2 separate regions of the Homo sapiens genome follow, and region 1 is linked to region 2. A link means that fine-mapping ties the variant in region 2 to the expression of a gene that starts in the linked region. Tissue or cell type: whole blood. Region 2 holds a variant in brackets; the other region holds the start of a gene. All regions are shown on one strand. Distances are between the middles of the regions.

What was found. PIP is the estimated chance that this variant, and not a neighbour inherited with it, causes the effect.
Region 1: it holds the start of TCF20, and the variant in region 2 is fine-mapped to the expression of TCF20 in whole blood (TOPMed, PIP above 0.99).

Annotation. Positions count from the first base shown.
Region 1 is chr22:42,269,329-42,272,006 of GRCh38, forward strand. TCF20 (transcription factor 20) reads right to left here and starts at 1,325. Exons shown (of 6, transcript NM_001378418.1): 1 at 1,011-1,325. It also overlaps the pseudogene OGFRP1. RefSeq lists an enhancer at 79-138 and silencers at 469-708, 849-908, 969-1,118, 1,259-1,418.
Region 2 is chr22:42,213,940-42,216,617 of GRCh38, forward strand. It overlaps TCF20 (transcription factor 20), which reads right to left. Exons shown (of 6, transcript NM_001378418.1): 2 at 1-1,402. The coding sequence starts at 1,366. Among named protein-coding and RNA genes, the nearest start is that of TCF20, 55 kb to the right of the region's middle. RefSeq lists an enhancer at 1,044-1,543. The variant C/G (reference allele first, on the strand shown) is at 1,526.

The DNA of each region.
Region 1 (2,678 bases), 55 kb after region 2:
TCCTAATTTTGACCTGACCCCTAAGGTCAAACTAAAGGATTGAATACAGACCAGCAGACCGTATTGGTATCCGCAACCACAAAAACAGACAATAATCCCACCCACAAGCAGAGGAAGACGGCCGCTCCTCGGCACCGCCCCCCAACTCACTAAATTCCACTCCCATTCCGGCGTCCAGAGGACAGTGCACCTCCCGCCGTAGCCTGAGAGGGATCGGCCCGATTGGCCACGCTCCTTCAAACCACCACTTTCCCCCGAAAAAGGGACGAAAGCCTCAGGTCCCCAAACGAGCGCTCCCTCGCCCAGAGACCCCGGCTTGCACACCCCGCCCTGTTCCCCGCGGCGCGGGAGGAGAGGCCGCCCCACACAGGAAGTGTGTCCTGCGCCGGGACCTTGCGCCCAACCCGCCGGTACCTGCCCTCCGCCCCCAACAGGCGAGAAGCAGCCGCGTCCACATGGCTTCAGGTGTTCACATGGCAGTAAACGGGCCCCTGCTCTCCTGGGCGCCCCAGCGCGGCGCCCTCCCGCCCACATCCCGGCCCAGCCCCGCTGGCCTCGCCTCCAGCCCGTAGCCAAGAGGCGAGCGCGGCCGGTGCCCCCGGGGCTGCCAGGGGCCCCGAAGCAGGCGGCGCTGACTCCCGGACGCCGCCCGCTCACACCCGCCGCCTTTGCACCCAAGGCCTCGCGCGACCAGCAGGTAGACCTTCCCTCCGCACCCTCGGGCCAGCACCGGCACCCAAGCCCCGCCGGAACCCCGGGCCGGCCCAAGACACCTTAGCCCTCTGATGCCAGGCCTGGCCCGGGCCCCTGCCCGCACTCTTGGGTCGGGCCGGGCAGCAACACTCCCCTCAGCACCCCAAGCCCTGACTCGGAGTCCAGGAGGCTCCGCACTCCCAGGTTGGGTCCGGCCGGGACCTCTGCTCCCAGCCCCCGAGGCCGGACACCCCGGCCCGGCCCCAGTCCTTCAGGCCCAACCCTCTCCCTGCCCCTCAGGCCCGGGAGGCGGTTACCTGCAGGAGCCCCCCGCCCAGTCCCTCGGCCTCCGCCGGGGGCGGGCGGGGAGGGAGCGGTGGCGACGGCGGGCGGCGCTGCGCGGGGTGGGGGTGGGGGTGGCTCCGCCGCCTCCAGCTCGGGCGCCCGGGCCGGCGGCGGGGCGGGCCGGGGCCGCGGCCCCTCGAGGCTCGCTCCGGCCCGCGCGCTCGCTCCCCGGTCAGGCGCGCCTCAGGGCGGGCTCCCCTGGCGGAGGCCGCGGCCGCCTCGCAGGGGCCGAAAGCGGCTGGGCTCGGGGTTTTTTCTCTCCATTCTCCCAACACACAGGAAATAACAGAGCGTCAGGTGACGGCGCGCGGCCAATGGGGAGGCTCCGGGCCGCGGCGCGCGGGCGGGCGGGAGGGCGCGCGGCGGGGCGGGGCGCGCGGCGGGGGCGGGGCGCTGGGGGCGGGGCCGGGCGCGCGCGTGCCCACCCGCGTGCGGCGGCGTCGAGGCTGGCGCGCGCCGGGTAGGGATCGCGAAGACCCCCACCTCGCGGCAGGGTCGCACGGGGTTCTCCTCTGCGGCCGCTGGGCGCCGCGCGCCACCCGCCCAGTGCCATCTTGGCCTGCGCCTCAGGGCCGTCTTGGGGGTGGACGCGAGCCAACTTTCTGGGGGAGTTGGTGGCCCGGAATCTCTCTGGGATTTCTGGAGTTCCCTGGAGCCTCCAACTCCAGAATCGCGCCTCTTGCGGCCCGGGAGGTCCGCGGGCGAGGACCCGGTCTCCTCTCGGTGACCTGTTTAGTGGGGTCGGGCGTGGGGGCGGCTCCTGCCCGCCAAGAGCCCTCTGGGCCGGGGGCAGCCCAAGACCTAGCTGGTCCCGCCTGGGTCCCTGGCAGCCCCCGCCCATGGGTTCCAGGTGTCCGTGGAGGAACGACTTGGGTCCTCTCAGAGCCTCAGTTTCCACCGCGGAAAACGCGAGGAGGGAGGCCCACCTACCTCACCTGTAAAACGGACGCTCCAGCTGCCTTCTGCTGCGGCATTAAGAAGCTGCAATGCCAGGCTGACTGCGCCCAGGGTCCCGAATTAATTTGCCGATAAGGCGGAGGATTTGCGGTGCCAAGGCCTCAGCTTGTTCCCAGCCTTCCTTTGCAAACCTGATGTTTCTAAAGCAAAGGAAGGGCTTGACTTCTTTATAAAGAAAATCGCAATTGTAGAGCAACTAATATGTAGATGTTGGTGCCCCCACGGCCATCAAAAGTGACAAGGCCAGCAAGAGTAGGATGCGTTGAGAATTTGTGATCCTGCCCCTGACCTTTGACCTGGCCAAATTCTCCTCCCACTTTGGGCCTCAGTTTCCTGTGGGTGAGGAGAGTTTGGATTAGATGTCCCTAATGTTGGCTAAAATTGCCGATTCTAAATTAGGCTCCCATCTGTCCTAGATGTTAGGGGAGTATGTGGCTTCCTCTCCTGAAGCAACCCAACTTAAAAGTTGGGATTGGAAAAGTGCTTCCGGCAGCAGGTGGGGATTGTCAGGAACCAGGTGTGGTCTGGAACCCAGATTTCCATATATTTGAGGTACACAGCTTCCCGGGGCCTGCTTTTACTTTTTGACCTTTCACCCCACCTAGCCATTGCCTTTTCTCAGGCTACCCAAGGAGGGTCTCAGGGTCCCAGGCAGAGCCCCAGGTGGTCCTGGGCCCCTTGGC
Region 2 (2,678 bases):
AACTACTCAACCCAGGATCTGTCAGTCGCTTTTCTGGTACCCCTTCTAGTCCAAACCCTTTGAAGCCTGCAGCATGAGAATTAGGACTGGGCATCATTGATGGGGTTGGACTGAGTTGAGGCATTAACTGTAAAATTCTGTTTCTGGAACCCATAGGCACACTGCCTTGCCCACACTGGAGATTCTCCCCAGTCTGCATGAGAGGAGATGGGGTAGAACTACAGCTTGGAGACTGAACCACAGAGGCAGCTGGAGAAGGGTTAGAAATGGGGCTGAAGTTCTGGTGAAACTGCATGGGGGACCTCACAGGAACCTCAGGCTGGTTGTACTGCCCCACTTGGCTTTGCAGGGGCAGCTTGGTGGCAGCGTTAGTATACTGCATCACATGCTGAGAAGGGTGTTGTTGTTGCTGCGGTTGCTGCTGCTGCTGCCCCTGTTGGGTCCCTTGTGGAATCTTTGCCTGTTCAAAATTCTTCATAGATTGAGGCTGATAGCTGTAATTGGATTGTGTTCCATAAGCCTGTGCATTAGAACCCACATTGTGTCCTTCATACTGAGATCCAGCATTCACATTGTAACTGCCATCATAGCTCTGTCCAGACTGGCTAAAACGCTGTGGTGAAGGGAAGGAGGAGGAGGAGGAGGAGGAAGCAGAAGACTGATAGTGTTGGCCAAACTGACCCACTCTTAACTGGTAACCAGCAGCAGAGGATGGCAGAGTTGAGGGCCGCTGCATTGGCTGTAGATGGGATGAGCTGGATGCTGGTTGGCCAGTGGCCTGTGGCAGGGGCTGATGGGACTGGTAAAGCTGTTGTCTCAACTGCTGGACTTGCTGCTGCTGCTGCTGGCTGGAAGCCTGCTGTTGGTACTGAGCACTCCCTGGAGAGAAAGGCCCAGTGTAATCCTGCTGATAATGTGACACACCGCCAAGGCCAGAGTGCTGTGCTTGAAACTGGCCCACATGACCCTCACTCCCATACTGATTGCCAAAGCTGCTCCCCTGGGGGGGTCCATAGCTCTGCACAGGCCCAGAAGGCCTTCGCTGAGGAGGCTGTGGGGTTCCTGTAGTCACGGGGTCTTTGTTGCCTGCCATGTAGTAAAAATCTCCAGCCTCTTTCCTGAAACCCTGGTAACCTTGATGGCCAGAGGTCTCGCTAGCCATCGCTGCCGCAGCAGCTGCTGCTCCTCGTCGTCCACCACCACTGCCACTGCCACTGCTGCCACTACTGCCACCTGTACCTCCAAAATTCTGGAACATCTGGGCCTGACGAGGGCTGAACTCTTCTAGCCGGGATGAGCCGTGTACCTCCTGTGGGTAGCTTTGCTGGTTTCCGTGGTAACTGCTTTGCTCCCGAAAGGACTGCATACTGTTCAGCAGCACAGCAGCAGGCCAACAGCCCTCCTAGAAATAGAAGAAAGAAAAACATTAGACACGCATCTCCTTGGTACAAATAAAATCAAGTCTAGATGATGGAGGGAATAAAGATGAATCAGAGGCCCAGATGAAGCTGACTGGTTTGAATTT[C/G]TATTTTTTTTTTTTGGTTTTTTGAGACAAGAGTCTCACTCTGTCACCCAGGCTGGAGTGCAATTGCACGATCTCAGCTCAATGCAACTTCTGCCTGCAGGGTTCAAGCAATTCTCTTGCCTCAGCCTCCCGAGTAGCTGGGACTACAGGCGCATGGCCACCAGGCTCGGCTAATTTTTTGTATTTTTAGTAGAGACAGGGTTTCACTGTGCTGGCCAGGCTGGTCTCGAACTCCTGACCTCGTGATCCGCCCACCTCGGCCTCCCAAAGTGCTGGAATTACAGGCATGAGCCACCACGCCTGACCTTGAATTTCATCTTTTATATTTTATCCTATCCACTTCTGAAAATGCACATATGCAGAGAAATGGCCTAAAGAGTGAGGCAAGAATCTGTAGTAGAATGAAAAGCAGCACTCTGAGTGCATACAAACCCAATACAGCAAAAACATGTATGTCTCATATATCTAATAATGCCTTATTAGACAAATGAGCCCCCAAACTCAACCAGATTAAAATATGGGGCTGTGTTATTACTGTCAATGAAAAACAGCAATTTTTCAATAAGCCTCCCAGTTATGCGGGGGAGGGGGTGTGGGGTAAGAAAAACCAAATCCTTTTTTTTTTTTTTTTTTTTTTTTTTTTGAGACAAGGTCTCACTCTTGCCCAGGCTGGAGTGTGCAGGGGCACAGTCGTAGTTCACTGCAGCATCAAACACCTGGCTTCAAATGATCCTCCTGCCTCGGCCTCTCAAAGTTTTGGGACTACAGGCATAAGCCACTACTTTCATTTCTCTGCTTTCATGTATTAGGGTGATCACTGAACTGCGGGTTTTAACACTGGCTGCTGATCGCCACTCCCCAACACTGAGAAACAGACCTGGCCAGAGAACTGCAGCCAATTCCTTATGTCCAAGTGCAAATTTTTGCAGCTTTACTATAATTGCCAACTACCTGTGATGACTGGTGACTCCAGGACACTCAGCCCATATGGGTTCCACACAAACTTTGGAGTCAACCTCTTCTTGGCATATGACTGTGTCTACAGCACCCCTCTCTCCACCACTCTCCTTCAATTCCCAGGTACAAAGGGCTAGACTTAAGCCAGTGAATAGCAGTGACTATTCTTCCAGATTATTTTGGGAGGTTTCCAAGA